2 linked regions of the Homo sapiens genome follow. The protein of the gene in region 1 purifies or fractionates together with the protein of each later gene. This does not show direct contact. Each region holds a gene or a part of one and is shown on either strand. Other genes may lie near its edges. The genes, in order: CCR2 and POTEE.

Region 1 (8,353 bases):
CAGTCATGGTAGGTCAGGGTCCATCTCATTGTCTCCATCACTCATGCCCACCCAGGGTAAGTCTAATCATGTTCACCAATCAGAACCTCTGCCACATCAGCTCTGTGGGTTTCCTCTCATGCCATCTGTACCAACAATGAGCACAGTCTGGGTTTCCTGATGTTTTCTATAGCATGGTGCCCCTCCCTGGGACACCTCAGAAGCCACAATGATATTCATTAAACTTCTTCCTGCAAGTACTCCCTCTATTGCTCCTTCTACTCACCAAGCTTAGTGTCAGGGAATATGCTGGTGGGGAGTATGAATCTTAGCTTCTCACTCCCAGACTCGGCTCCCAACCTGCTGTTGCCAAGTCTTGGGGACATCTATAAATGCCTTCTAAATACCTGTCTTGGCCTATCCCCAGCCACAGATTCCTCCCTAGAGCAGGCTACCTCTGAGGCATCTATACTGAGATCTTAATCACAGAGACATTTAAAACATCTAGGCTACAAAAGAATTCCTACTATAGGGTTCAAATGAATTTCTTTCCGTCACTTGAGACAGCTTTTTAGCAAGTACATGTATTAAAGATTCTGATTTCCCCTTTTTTCTCCTACAGTTTGTTTGGCCTAAAGGTATGACATCTAATCTGCTGCATTTACACTCTAAGTCAAAATTACCATTTTGTTCTTTTAATTTCTATTTCTAATCATACATTCTTGTCTACTCCTGGTTCATCTGGAGACAAAGTTGAACTTAGAAGATGGAGGAGAAATTCTTATCTGCCCTCTGCTAGTTGACACTTCCTTTCCAAGAATCATTTGCAGTTGCTGGGCTTTCTTGCTGTGACTCTATGCCCTGTTGTGTTACTTTTTCATTTGTGACAAAAACAGTGGTAATAGTTTGCTTCATTTTTATTATGAAGACTTGACCAGGATAGGTAGGAACATAATTACTGCTTTTTCTGTGGGCATCATATTGGTCCAGATCATGTTTAACCAGAATTGAAGATGTAAAATCCTAGAACTCACTAATCTATTTTAGTAGGTCACAGGAAGCATGCAAACCATAAAAACCGCAATGAACCAAAAGCATCTGTGTTGACAAGAGGCAAGAATTTCTCTATTTTCTAAAGGCACTAACTGAACAAATCTATTGCCCATTACTTAGGAAATTGCTAAGGGCATCGTTAAAGTACTTCAGGCTGTTGAAAAACCTTTTCTGTCTTCTTGCCCCACCACCAATTCTCTCTAGCTATGCTTTCTCTCACATGTTCTTGCCATCCATGGAGTGGCAGAGAGGTTCTGAGTACAACTCTAACTTTCAGTTTCAATGGCCTAATCCCCAACTCAACTGCTGACCTTGAGTGTAAAAATAAACAAGATCTTAAACATCTTAGGGCCAGCATTCTGGGTCTTCTTTTGTTATTTGGGGAGCATAAACTATTCTCATATCATTGGCTTGCAGAAAAATTGAGCTTCTCCTCTTCCTTGCCCCATGTCACCTTGAGGTGACCACAGCCCTGCCTTCTATGTAATCCTGCTTGGTCAGCAGGCACATCAGAGCTCAGTGGCTTGTGACATACTTTCCTTCAAGCCTGCTCGAAGGGCCATACTCATCATTGAGACTGGGAACCTTAGAAACCATGAACCCAGTGCCAATGGGTAGATACAGAATTCTCAAACTCATGAAAAAACATCCTTTTTAACTCTCTCCGTGTGCATAAAGAATTCTAAGATGTACTGATCAAGATTCCCAATTTTCTAACTATCTATTAATATATGGACGAGGTAAGAAGAAAGTTGCAAGAAAAAAATTTGTTTGACTTGACGGTTGTGTGGTTATTTGCCACACTCCCCCAGATCCACTCTGAGTCCCAGGATGCTGATTTTAGGGGCTACATTGCCTAGACTGTCCATTATTCCCTCTTCCCATCTGGTTCAGTCACTGGGAAGCACTGGTAGGAGGTCAGAGTGGGAGAAGGAGGTTAGGATACTTTCTGCCCCTGCTGTCCTACTGCTTTGCTGAACTTCTAGCAGTGGCTGAGCCATCAACCTGCAGCTCTCAATTCCAGCTGTCTGTAGCACTCAAGTGGTATTGTTTATTCTTTTGATCCTTCTAGCTGTTAAGGAAGAAAAAAATAATTTTTTCCTCAATGCTCATAAGTTCTTGGAATGGACCCCTGTAACAAAAGACAGATTAACACGAGAAAAGTTTATTAACGTACATATTTTATACGTACATAGGAGCTATCCAGGGAATGAATAATTCTTAAAAAGGTGACTTTGAATTCCAGCTCATATAGCATCTTCAACAAAGTTCAGTAACATTTTAGAGATATGACAAGACAAAGAAAATGAACTTTGAGCCTCTAGGGACAGTGACTTGTAGGAAGGCAAAAGGAATAAATGGAGGTAAAGGCTGGTTAGTAATACTTGTTAATGAAGATTCCTCTGGTGCCATCTCCAGGTCCACAAGGATTTAAATTTGTCTTCAGTGGTGAACCTTTGTTCACCCTGGCAGAAGGTGTGGAGGGGGGTGCAGATCCGTTTTGTCTTTGTAAGTCTATATCCTGCTTTTAGACAAATAAAGGGAGGGAAAAGAGCTTTCCTTCATCTGCTTCTTAATTGCCTTCAGCTCAACAATCCTTATGCAAAAGAGGTACATTTTAGGGTGTCAAATTCTGGTCTCCCACAAAGCATAGGGATGACAGACCACCTCACCATCCCTGTTGCTTCTTTTAAGCCTGCTCACCCCTCCAAAAATATTTTCATTCTATACTGTCTCTTCAAAATCTCAGCGGAGGGTGCCCTCTGTTATCCTGCCCTCTGTGTCAGTATAAGCCAAAGGTTTGAATCCTGGCTCTGCAACTATCTACCTCTGTGCCTCTCCTTGTTTATGAAATTACAGGGCTGGAGACAAAGATCACAATGTGAAGACAAAATTGGAGAGCGGTCCTAATCAGCCAGAGCAAAATTTCTGGCTCTTGCTCTTCCCCATCCTGGGTTGAATCATAGGAACAGGTGGCAAGATGCCAGGGTCAGGAGATTCCAGAAGTGGCAGCAAGCTCAGTGTTACCAGGTCAGGGATGACCTGTCTTATTATTGAAATCTCAGAGATATGCTCCAATTCCGGCCCAGAGACACATTGAGAGACAACTGGGGAACTTGCTATGTTCCTGAACAGGCAATGAGCTGTCTTCCAAGAAAAAACCTGAGACCCTTCAAGTCTCAGGTCTTACTTAGCACATATACCAGGTCTTACACAGGACACATGGTTACAACTGACTGAAATCTGGGCTGGGTGTAGGAGCTCACACCTGTAATCCCAGCCCTTCAGGAGGCTGAGGCAGGCAGATTGCCTGAGCCCAGGAGTTCGAGACCAGCCCGGGCAACATGACAAAACCCCATCTCTACAAAAAATAGTCAGGCATGGTGGCATGCACCTGTAGTCTCAGCTACTTGGGAGGCTGAGATGAGAGGATTGCTTGAGGTTGAGACTGCAGTGAAGCATGATCATGCCACCGCACTCCAGCCTAGGCAACAGAGCAAGATCTTGTCGCAAAAGAAAGCAAAAACACAACATAACACAACAACAACAACAACAACAACAACAGCAAAAAAGCCAACTTCTTGAAATCTGGAAAGGACACCTGGACTGCCCTGAGCATTTGATTGTTGTTGGCTCTAGCAGTGGATGCATCCTTCAACCTCTGGCACTCTGCAGGGCTCAGACTGTTCTGTTCTGTTTGTTACCTGTGGAGTGCCTGCCAGACCCTGCTCTAGCTGCTTTAGGTCCATTTACCCTCATAGACCCCCAGTCTTGTTATTCATATTTCATATTTGGGAAATGGAAACTTAGAAACTTGCCAAGTCCACAGCATGAGATCCTGCCTCCGGTGTCTGCTGGATTCCAGAAAGTGCCAGGGGCCAACTTAGATGACACCATGTTCTCTGCACAATCTTAGGAATGCTCCTAGTCTGATGTCCCCATTGCAAAATTTACATTATCTTTTAACAAAACGTCTTTCCAAGGAGGGGCATTTAAAATAACTGAGGTTCTTCTTGCTAAGGACGTTCCTGACACAAGAGATAATTTAGCATTTCCTTTTCATTAAAAAGTTTGAAATCCTGTAATTTGTGATAATGTGGATGAACCTAGAGGATGTTAAGTGAAATAAGCCACACACAGATAGACAAATACCACGTGATCTCACTCTTATGTGGAATTTTTTTTTAAATAAGTTGCTTAGCCGGGCATGATGGCACACACCTGTAATCCTAGCTACTCAGGAGGCTGAGGTGGGAGGATGGCTTGAACTCAGAAGGTGGAGGTAGCAGTGAGCTGAGACTGTGCCAGTGCACTCCGGTCTGGGTGACAGAATGAAACCCAATTTAAAAAAAAAAAAAAAGTTGCTATCTTAGAAAAAGACAGTAGAGCAGTGGTTACCAGAGACTGGGGAGGAAAGAGAGGAGGTGAGAATGGGCAGCAGTTGATCAACGGGTACAAAGTTACCATGAGATAGGAGAAACAAGTGCTGGTGCTCTGCTCCAAGTAGGGTGACGGTAGTTAATAATGAATTCTGTATATATAAATAGCTAGAAGAGAGGGTTTTCAATATCATTATTATTTCAAAAGAAATGATAAATGTTTCAGAGGATGGATATGTAATTACCCTGATTTGATCATTGCACAATGTATACATGTAGCAAAACATCACATTGTGTCCCATAAATATATACAATTATTATGTGAATTAAATAAAAAAAAATTTTAAAGTCTTATCTAAATGAAATTTCTAACCAGATTCTGAATCCATGATACCACTGAAACCAGCACACATGATCGCAGTAAAACCTCATTATACTTCCTCCACTATCACCAATACCCTTTATTCTCTGGAACATGAAACATTCTGTTGTGCTCATATCATGCAAATTATCACTAGTAGGAGAGCAGAGAGTGGAAATGTTCCAGGTATAAAGACCCACAAGATAAAGAAGCTCAGAGTCGTTAGAAACAGGAGCAGATGTACAGGGTTTGCCTGACTCACACTCAAGGTTGCATAAGCAAGATTTCAAAATTAATCCTATTCTGGAGACCTCAACCCAATGTACAATGTTCCTGACTGGAAAAGAAGAACTATATTTTTCTGATTTTTTTTTTCAAATCTTTACCATTAGTTGCCCTGTATCTCCGCCTTCACTTTCTGCAGGAAACTTTATTTCCTACTTCTGCATGCCAAGTTTCTACCTCTAGATCTGTTTGGTTCAGTTGCTGAGAAGCCTGACATACCAGGACTGCCTGAGACAAGCCACAAGCTGGTGAGTTGTAGGCATTTTTTCCATTACTTTCTGATTCATAGGCTCAACGCACCTCAAAGCTGGAAATGCCGGGTCTGGGTACACCCTGGGGAACTGCAAAGCCTGCACACTTGGGGGGAATGATCAAGATGAGAGGCAGGGGTGGGGATGGCATGTGCACCAGGAGATGTTAGAGAAACCCTGAGGAAGAGCAGCGTGCAGCAGGTGATGGGGGAGAGTGGGCAGCAAGCGAGGCCAGGACAGCCACTCTGCTCAGTCACCAGTCCACACACCCAGGGGCTCACTCTGCCCCTCTGAGCACCCAAGGACGTTAAAGAGCTGGAACTGTTAGTCTAAATATAGGACCATCCAAGCTCTGAACCAAAATGTGTCCCTTGCCTCAACTCAGGAGATCCACAGAGGCAGAAGTAAGGAATTTATTTTCTGAAAGATAGATTTCTATCAGTTCTGGGTGACATGTTCTGACACTTGAAATGACACCTAGGACAGCACATTTCAGGCATCTTGCTCATTGTTCACTGTAGTAGAAGCTACATGCTAGCCAGTTGTAAAAATGAAATTAAGTAATGTGTGCACAGCATTTAACATAGCATCTGAGCTTCAGGAGCACTCAATTAATGACCACAGTTGTGATTCTTTAGGCAGATGCATTTTTTTCCAACTTTGATCAGAGGTCTTATTTAGCTTCTCCAGATTTCAAGAATCTGGCTCAGTGATATGAAATACAAGACTTGTGAAAAGTGTCAATTGCAAGAGAAATGGAAGGATAAAGTATACAGGTGGGTGGAAAAGAAATTCACAGTCACTGCCAGAAAAAAAATTCTTGAGAATCAAGTCCTGATGATGTTAGGGCTTATAGTTCTTATTATAAAGAGTTTTATGTACTCATTCAGTGAACATTTATTGGTGCCTCCTTTAGCCAGGTACTATCATAAGAGCTGAAAATAGAAGCATAATCCAGTCCTTGATCTTGAGGAACATGCTGTGTGTAGCAGATAACATAATAAGTGCTTATCTAGATGCATGCAGTGTTATGTGATAAGAGTAATATGACAGAGGATACAGATTAGGCTTCACAGAGAAGGGGGATTTGAGCAGGAGGTATTGAAGGGTGAATAGAAGCTCACCAATCATTTTGGGCAGAGGGGCAAGGACCTGCAAAACCACTGAAGCATGAAGGAAATGGTGAGTTTAGGGAAAATGAAGAGAAGATGGCTGTGACTGAAGCACAGGATTTGGGATTGGAGAAGGGACTGGAGGTGAGGCTGAAAAGAGGCAAACTCAGAAAAGATGTTGTGCTGGGCAGTCTGGACATTATCTTTGAAGCCCACCACATATAAGTCATAGGGCTACTGGAGGTTTTAAGCTAAGAGTGACTATTCAATTTCAACTTAAGAGAAGATAGGTTGAGAGGGAACATGGCTTGAGATGAGCCATGAGCAAAGGAAAGACTACAACAAAGCCAGGAGTGAGGAGTGTGTGAAGCAAGAAAGTGACAGTTGAAAGCAGTGCAGAGGGGATGAATCTGAGAGGCATCTATGAGGTGGAACTCAAATGACATGATAATAATACAGGGCATTTCTCTGTGTCAGATGCTGTCCTAAGTCCTTACTCCATTGATCTTCACAGCAACTCAGCATAGTTAATATTTTATGCATAAAGAAATCGGCACTTGAAGGAGTAATTGGCCCCAGATTACACTGCCTATAAGGATTCAAATCCAGGTTTGTTTGGCTCCAAAAACTGGCTCCTAATTTTCAGAAGGAGAAGCAACCCAGGGCAATGCCCAATTTTGCTTCTTAGGCAATGGAGGAATCCACAATCGGAAGGAGTTTTCAGCAGTGCCCCATTTGGGGTGGGTTGAATTTGAGGTCCCTGCATGATACCCACTTTGCTCACTTCAGTGCCTAAAACTGAGTATGGTTCATAGTAGGTGTTCAATAAGTGTTGATGCAGTGAATACATGCATGGGGAGATATGCATCAGGCAATGGGAAATTCAACTCTAAGGCTTAGGGGAAAGCTGGAGCTTGAAGACAGAGCTTTAGAAAACAGTAGCATAGAAGGGAGTAGGAACCATGAGTTTAGACAATACAATTCAGGAAGAACTTTGTAGCAAGGATAAAGAGGCAAAAAATTAAAGAGGTGAGAGCTAAGTGTGGTGCCTGGGGAATCTTAAGGTGTGGGCACGGGGAGGAGATGCCAGCAAAGAACATGAATAAAAAGCGGTAGCACAGCCCCTCCCATCTGGAAGCCAAAAAGAATTGTAAATGGAGGAAGTTAGCAGAAGGATCAAATACTTGAAGAGGGTGGAATTGGAATAAAACCAGGGCATTTGAAAAATTGGGTTGTCACTGCAATCTTAACAAGAGAAGTTTTGGCAGGATGATGGAGGCAGAAAGCTGAGAGAATCATCAGTTAGAACGTTTTTGACTTCAGAGAACAGAAAATGCAGTTCATAATGGCTTTAAAACAGGGGCTTGTTTTTCTCCCAGCAATTTGAGAGGCCAAGGCGGGTGCATCAGGAGGTCAAGAGACCGAGACCATCCTGGCCAACATGGTGAATCCCCATCTCTACTAAAAATACAAAAATTAGCGGGGCATGGTGGTGCACGCCTATAGTCCCATCTACTCAGGAGGCTGAGGCAGGAGAATCACTTGAACCCAGGAGGTGGAGGTTGCAGTGAGCTGAGATCATGGCCACTGCACTATAGCCTGGAGACACAGCGAGACTCCGTCTCCAAAAAAAAAAAAAAAAGAAGGCAGAAGGTGAATAGTTCAAGGGTGGGTTTAGGACTCAGTGATAATAGGATTCTGCCTGGCTTCTCATGGTTCTCTAGGTCTTCCATTCATGGCACCATGCCCTCACTAGGCATGCTGCCAGAGCAGGAGGGGCAGGTGGAGGGTTCTCTTGTGTCTGTCTTATCAGGGAAGAAGAGCTTTCTCAGAAGCCCCCAGCAGACTCCCTTTTCATATTATGGTCCAGCAATGAGTCACAGACCTATGCACCACCTGCAAAGGAGCCAGAGAAAACAAACGCCCAGCGCT
Region 2 (8,420 bases), on another chromosome or scaffold:
TATTATATGTGATATTGATTGTGTGCCAGACATATGTGATGAGGAGTGAAAGCTTTAGAAAGAAAGGAGGCAGGATTTAATGTAAGCATGCAGAGTGAGAAGAATTTTTCAGGGAAAGAAGCAGAGGAATGACATTTGGCAGAAGGAACATGGAGTGAGATAGTGTGTTTGCCAGAAGGAACATCTAATGAGATTGCCCGTTTGGGAGGAAGAGCAGCAAGTGCAGAAGACAAGATGCTTGAGTGAACATGGCAGGGTTTCTGAGCAGTTCACTTTTGCTAGTACCAAAAGTGTGAGATACCAGAGGTTGGGAGTGAGGTGAATACTTAGCTAAGGCAAGTTTACGATAGACTTTTTAATACTATAGAAATGAGTAGGTCTTTTCCTGTGGGCCATGGGAAATTTACCAGGTAGAATGCTTTGGACTGCAAATACTAGATGAGCAGTGCCTAAAACACTAGGAACCAGAGTTGTTTTTTTGTTCATTGATATCCTAGGGATCCCACTTGTCCCTCTTTCAGCTGTGCTGTTGACAGTGTTTTATTCACGTCTCCTTTTGTGGTTGGCTAATCTGCAGCAGCTCCAAACATCTTGTTTTCACAACACAACATCGAAAGGGCTGCTTTTCTTCACATGTGTCTTTTAAACAGGGAGAAAACTTAGAAGCATGCAAGGGGCTTCCTGTAACATTTCATTGGCTGGGTCATACCACATGCTCATTCCCAAACCAGGCACTGGGAAGGTAAATATCTGATTAGCTTAGAATAAACATTTCTTTCTGAGGCTGAGGAGGGGGATTGGGATATTAAATATCCCAATAGACTTATGTTTTTTCTGCCAGAAAGAATGAGGAATGGCTATTGATAGGGAGCCAACAATGTGTGCTGGAGGGGGCTCATTGGAGAAATTTGAGCAGGGGAGCCACAAGATTAAATTTGAGTATTAAGGCATTCTGGTTATGGTGTAAAATGGGTTAGCAAGCTTTTTCTTTAAAGGACCAGGTGGGAAATATTTTGGACTATGTGGTCTCTGTCATATCTACTTAACCGTGCTGTTGTCTGCTGTTGTAGTGTGAAAGCCACCATGATTATATGTAAGCAAACAGGCATGACTGAGCTCCTATAAAACTTTATTTACAAAACCATAATGCAGATTGGATTTGGCCTGTGGCCTATAGTTTCCTGGGATTGATGGGAGATAATCATGCAAAGAAACCAGGAGACAAAGGAAGCTTTTGCAGTAGTCAGCTATAGTTTCCATGTCACACATCCTTGGAGTAGCATCAATGTATTACAAGGTTTTCACCCGTCCATGGTGAAATAAATAACGTTAGAAATCTCAGTTACTCATTTTACTATGTTGGCCTTCGTTATGCCCTTTTCACTTGTTTTGCTTAATTTTTTTTCCTGTAAGAAATAACATTAATAGTTGGCAGTTTTCTTTTAAATAGAAGTCATTTTGTAAATGTTTGTGTTCCCAGTGGCAGTGGGAATATAAAACAGAGGCAGAAGAGAGGTATAGTCAATATGATTTAGTGATAATTGAATGAGAAAGGCTTGGGGGACAGAGAGAAATCTCAGATGATGTACAGGTTTCCAGATTGCACACTAGTATTTAACCTGGACATGAGGAAGGAGTAGGAAATTTTCTGGTGAATACAGAAGAGCAAAGAGCAGCAGGTCAGCAGGAATGACTAATGTTTTTCGATGCATGTTTAATGGAATATTCGTGTAGGGTATTTTGAGTAGGTAATTGGATAATCAGCATTTATAACTCGCATCCTACTAGTTTGACTCTAAGTAATAAGACTTGTCAAAGATCCAAGAATCTGAAAGTCAGTAATAAATGTCCATGTGCATCATCGTCCGTGACAGAAAGTCAGCATCCACAGAACACAGAATTGGGACAGATGAACTTAATAGATAAAGATGAATATCGGAGTTGTTCCTCTTAGGGAATGATACTCTCCATGACCTGTGTGAGTCACAGCTGCCAGAAAAGAAAGAGCAAGGAGCGTATGAAGGCAGCACAGCAAATTCGGTCCTAGAGTGCCCTGCTTGGCTTCATGTCATAGTTCTGACTTCTAAATAATCATTTTCTGCAAAATGTGCTTTGTGTTTTTCCCTCTTGCCGCCTGCAGCCAATCAGAATCTTTTTAGCAGGACATAATGAAAAGAAGTAAGAGAAAGAGTGTTTTTTTGTAATGGGATAGTATTTAACGTAAACTTGAGAGTGAGTACCAGGATTATACTTAGAATTTATGGACTGGATGGGAAGACTGGATAGAAATCTAAAGATTGCTGACTCAAACACAATGTGGTTTCTTTGATTTATTTTCACAGCTCTGAATTCACGACTGTTAATTGTATTCATATGCATTATAACTTTACAAAGCATCTTCCGAAACCAAATATTTACTGATTTATTATAATTTGTATGACTTTATTATAGAACTGACTTTCCAAGTGTTCATGAGAATTGTTTAGAATTTGCTACATTGTATCATCTCAGCTGTGTCCACATGAGCTATCTGTCACCTTGTCTTAATGAATAATTGTTCACTAGGAATATTGGTTTTGGCATTGAAATGATCTATATCTAAATGCAGATAGGACCCGGGACCACTTTTGAACATTAATGTTCAAGCATCTTAAAATTACACATAATGCTTTCATAATCTGACTTCTGCCCCACTCTCCATCTTTAGCCCTTTTCCCTGTGTGCCCTGTCTCTGGCATTACTGAACTGCTGGCAGTGCCCTACTCACTCATCCTTCTATTGTAGGCAAATACTTTCACTCTTTCAGGAGTCGCTCCCGCTCTTGCTGCTGCGTGGCATGCCGTCACCCTTTCCTGCCCTCTACACCTTTTAATCTGGCTAGTCTCAATATTTAAGTCTCTGCTTGGGCATGTGTTCTAGAAAAGCCATCTCTGACATGCTTTATTTTAATTCTTTTTAAACCCTAATGCCTAGCATGTATTTAGCAGGACTCAATAAAATATTTCTGAGTAAAACAAAGACTGTTTTTACAAAGATGATGTGCAAGACTCTCCCCTGCAGTCTTGGAGCAGAGGGGACAGACGTGGAGGAATAATGTACAGTTTAGGTGGTCAAGATGCAGTAGAAAAATCAGTAAAGTACTAAGGCAGCCTCAAGGAAGGAGGTACCTGTTTATTTGGGGAAAGACATGCAGAATCAAGGAAAACTTCATATAGCATTGTTTCAAAAGATGAAAATAAGGCCAGGTGTGGTGGCTCACACCTGTAATCCCAGCACTTTCAGAGGGAATCACGAGGTCAGGAGATCGAGACCATCCTGTCCAATGGTGAAACCCCATCTCTACTAAAAATACAAAAATCAGCTGGGTGTGGTGGTGCTTGCCTGTAATCACAGTTACTCAGGAGACTGAAGCAGGAGAATCACTTGAACCAGGGTCGCGGAGGTTGCAGTGAGCTGATCACACCACTGCATTCCAGCCTGGTGACAGAGGAAGACTCTAGCTCATAAAAAAAAAAAAAGAAAAAAGAAAAAAAGAAAATAAATTTGTCAGAATAGTGGAGAGAAACATTTTAGATATTAGGAAGATGTTGTACACTAATAAAGGTGTCAGCAGTGATTTTGGAAATCATTTATAAGGTACTATTAGGAAGTGGAGAACAGTACACTGTGTCACCTTATATGTTTCTACTGTATTTTAAAGCTGTGTTTCTGGTGGTTTTGTTCATGGATGTTGGGTGGATGAATTTGTGAGGGAATTTTTGACATGTTTGTTTGTCTTCAATCTGGTGACATCTGCTATCTCCCCAAGTGGGTTTTTGAAGTTTTTGAGAATTATTTCTTAAATGACAATTTCACAAAAGATGAAACACTCAATTTATGAAATAAAATGAAATGTCTCAAATCTGTTTTTAAAAGGCAATAGTTTTTAACTGTTTTAAGTGGTTGATTTTAACTGAATGTATGGATTTTTCAACAGAACAAGACTTAAAGCTGACATCAGAGGAAGAGTCACAAAGGCTTAAAGGCAGTGAAAATGGCCAGCCAGAGGCATGGAAACTTTTAAATTTAAACTTTTGTTTAATGTTGTGTTTTTTTTGCCTTAATAATATTAGATAGTCCAAATGAAATTACCTTTCAGACTAGGCTTTGAGAATCAGTAGATTGTTTTTTTAAGAATCTTTTGGCCAGGCAAGGTGGCTCACGCCTGTAATCCCAGCACTTTGAGAGGCTGAGGCAGGTGGATCACGAGGTCTGGAGATCGAGACCATCCTGGCTAACATGGTGAAACCCCGTCTCTAGTAAAAATACAAAAACTTAGCTGGGCGTGGTGGTGGGTGCCTGTAGTCCCAGCTACTCGGGAGGCTGAGGCAGGAGAATGGCATGAACCCAGGAGAGGGAGCTTGCAGTGAGCCGACATCCACCACTACACTCCAGCCTGGGTGACAGAGCGAGACTCCATGTGAAAAAAAAAAAAAAAAATTTTAATAGATTCTTAAAATTTATTGTAATAAAATCAGCAACCTTATTAACAGAAGAATCAATAGATTCTAATTTAATATTTGATATTTAACTTCAACATAACCCACTATAAAATTTAAAATACTCTTATTTTAAAATATTCTTATCTGCCTTCTTGATTAGCTTATAGCTAATCTCTCCTTTTGGAATAGAGGCAAAAACAAATTTCAGAACTTTGTTTGTTCTTTTATTTTTACAACACCCTAACATGATAAAGAAAGTAACATCAATGATTGAATCATATTATTAAGCAATAGGAATTATGAACAATGTAACACTGATTCCCTGAGCTGGATTCATGGTTAAAGAGTAATCATGGCCTGTGATTGAAAATCCACAGTTTTATATTGTCAGTCACTGATACCAAGGTTAAGGACATATCCTGCCTTGTGGTCTCTCGTTGACCTCAGTGTTTCTGTTCAGGGAGGGAACCAGGTCATAAAAGCAACCCAACTGCCTATTACAAGAACCATATCTTGCAGAATGGGACCTTTGGTGTTAGTGCACAAACACAATAACATTCTAATTTATTTCAGTTGCAGAAAATCAGTAGAGATTAAAAAATTTTATCTGCTGTCATTAGTACACATTAGAATATATTAGAACTGGACTTACGCAGATAATCTGGATACATAACACTATCATATGACAGTATATAATTTCAATTAAAATGTGAGAATTTGCATTTCTTTCTGTTTGGTGTTGATTTCGGCTCCTAATAGTTTAAAGGGTGCCTACAATCCAGTTAGGAATCTTTTAAAAAAGCACTTCAGTGCACTGTAGGTGCTCACTAGTTAGGGTTTCATGAGGTAAACTCTTTTCAAGTGAGGAAGATTTTGGAACACTACAAATCATCTGCTGATTCATTTTTGGTAGATTTAACACATAACAAATTAAATTTAGTCCAAACAAATAGTGAGAAAGTTAAGTTTGCTGGTTCATGTTTTTCTTCTCCCTTTGTCTAAGGTGAATTATTTTTCACATGTTAGAAGCCAGTGATGTGGCAGTAGCTAAACATAGATTAAAAAGTTAATTCTTAATTTTAATTATTATTTATTTTAACAGTTTAATTTTAATTACTTTCTAATTTTTATTGTCCATACTTGATTACTTCAGAATAAAATTATTTTAAAAACATGCACTCCAAAAGAGGAAATGTCACAGAAATACAGCAAGCAAATTAACCTTCTGTTTTTACATCTGCAGAAAAGATCTCAAGAACCAGAAATAAATAAGGATGGTGATAGAGAGGTATACCTTTATATTCAAACGTTTGTGTTGAATTAGATTTTTACATTATGTTGTTTAACAAAGTGTAGTAAATGTAGGCATACATGATCCTATCATGTAAGTAGCATAAATCATCAGTGAAAAATTAAATAGTTAACTCAGAATTCTGTACATTGAATTTTGAAGAGGTGCAAACCCTAGAGCTATTCTTTCATTATTATGGAATAATCCCGAATGGTGCCATAAAATGCTAGGTAATGCCACTTTAGGAGCTTTAGACCAATTATTTTATCTTTCTTGGTTTTAGTCTGATTATCAATAGATAATGTGCCTAAAGTAGATAATTTCTTATTCTCTGTATTTTCCAGCTAGAAAATTTTATGGCTATCGAAGAAATGAAGAAGCACGGAAGTACTCATGTCGGATTCCCAGAAAACCTGACTAATGGTGCCACTGCTGGCAATGGTGATGATGGATTAATTCCTCCAAGGAAGAGCAGAACACCTGAAAGCCAGCAATTTCCTGACACTGAGAATGAAGAGTATCACAGGTAAGCCTATGGCAACATTGAACAGGAGGTAACTTTGTGCTGCCAAACTAATCCTAATTTGAGCTAATATTCATGATGAACAAATTTTATACTTTTATTAGGATATTGAGCCTTGCCTGTTAATCAGAAAAATGAAAATCAGCAAACAATCAGTTACCGTTTTTTTTCCAGTCATTAATTTATTTGAAAAATAACCAGTATTGGCAAATGTGAGGGAAAAGGCATTTTCTTCTCTTTTCAGTGAACTTTTATTTTAGCTTCGGGGTACGTGTGCAGGTTTATTATATAGGTAAACTGTATCATGGAGGCTTGGGGTACAGATTATTTCACCAGCCACATAGTAAACAAAATACTCGAAAGGTAGTTTTTTGGTCGTCTCCCTCCTGCCATGCTCCTCCCTCAAGTAGGCCCCAGTGTATGTTATTCTCCTCTTTGTGTCCATGAGTTCTCATGTTTAGTTCCCGCTAATGAGTAAGAATATGTGGCATTTGATTTTCTGTTCCTGCATGAGTTTTCTTAGGATAATGGCCTCCAGCTCCATCCGTGTTGCTGCAGGGGAAATGGTTTCATTGAAAAAGACATTTCATATACTGTTGGTAAATACATTTTGAACATTAATTGAGTAGCATATTCACACACACATATATAACAGTAAGCATATATAATACATGTAAAGGATATTTGTATAGATATGTTATATGTATACTTATGTATAAGGACATTTATTATAGTATTATGTAAAAAATTTGGAGCTAGTCTAATTCCTTATCAATAGGAAATAGCTCAATTTCCATATCCCCAAAATAATGTATTATGCAACCATTTTTAAAAAATGAGGTTAGATGTAGGGTATACTGATTATTTCACAATTAAAATGTATTTAAAGCGTTTAGTTTGATGACACATCTTAAGAGTTCTTGTTAAAATTCTTGTAATATCTGCTGTGTTGCAAATGGAAGCTACATGCTACATTGACACTGTACCTTGTTAGCAACAAGATTGCTAGTTACTAAATTTTTGTTGTCAGTGCCTGAGTGCTGAAATATTGGACCCTCAATCTGAATATTGCCAAGCGATTGTACATGGGGATCTATATTTAATATAAACATTTCAGTATATTTGGTAAAACTTTTATTAAAATACATCAAAGAATCTTTGATCTACTAAACCAGGAGTTGGCCAGCTTTTTCTGCAAAGAGCTAGTTAGTAAATATTTTAGGCTTTGTGGACTACATATATTGATTTTCTTGAGACAGGGTCTCACTCTGTTTCCCAGGCTGGAGTGCAGTTGTGTGATCATGGCTGACTGCAGCCTCGACTTTCTGGGCTCTAGTGATCCTCTGACCTCAGTCTCTACTAGCTGAGACCACGGGTGTGCAACATCACACCCAGCTAACTGACACTATGGACTGTAAAGTGAATAAGCATGGCTGTGTTCCAAGATACTTGACTTACAAAAACGGGCAGTGGGCTGGATTTGGCCCACAGGTGCTTATTTGCTGACCCTTGTGCTAAAAGGAAGGTGCTGCTAATGCAGTGACTTTTATTTGTAAAAGTGCCCTGCATGTGTGACATTATCCTCCCTTTGAGAAAAGGATATATTTCAGTATTCACCTCACCATATTTTTCCAGTGACTTCATATGATTTGGAAAACTACATTTATAAAATAAGATTATTTTCTGCATTTCTCCCACTTTATTCCTGTTAATAGAACTCAGTATTTTACTGTGATCAATTACTTCGTATATTTGATGAGTGTCAACTGTCCTAGAATTGGCTGATTTTTATCAAGCAAGAAATATTCTCCTTGAGAGTTTTAGTATTTCTTGGTCTTTATGTATAAGCATGAACAAAATGATAATCAGCTTATGTAATCTAGAAATGTTCAAAGGGCCTTTAAAACCTTGGTCTGACATTTCTAAATGCCATATGTGTATAATTTTTATAACCTTTAGAATATATAATGGTTACATAAAATTTGAAAACTCCACCTGGTATGTAAAATTTGGAAGCTACTATTTCTTGTCTATCACTTTTCCATGACTGTGGATGAAAATTACATCATTCTCAGTCATGAGCGTTAAGTATATTGTCCTTAAAGAACTGTCTACACTCATGAAC

Evidence for each region.
Region 2: the proteins of CCR2 (region 1) and POTEE purify together in Homo sapiens (affinity purification with mass spectrometry; 2 studies listed by BioGRID and IntAct, with this or other methods). This does not show direct contact.

Annotation. Positions count from the first base shown.
Region 1 is NC_000003.12:46,348,872-46,357,224, forward strand, and holds the start of CCR2 (C-C chemokine receptor type 2), read left to right. Parts: upstream 1-5,239; 5' UTR 5,240-5,306; intron 5,307-8,353. UniProt on the Homo sapiens protein: Key functional receptor for CCL2 but can also bind CCL7, and CCL12. Also transduces signaling mediated by CCL13.
Region 2 is NC_000002.12:131,246,802-131,255,221, forward strand, and holds part of POTEE (POTE ankyrin domain family member E), read left to right. Parts: intron 1-3,976; coding exon 3,977-4,047; intron 4,048-5,724; coding exon 5,725-5,769; intron 5,770-6,116; coding exon 6,117-6,298; intron 6,299-8,420.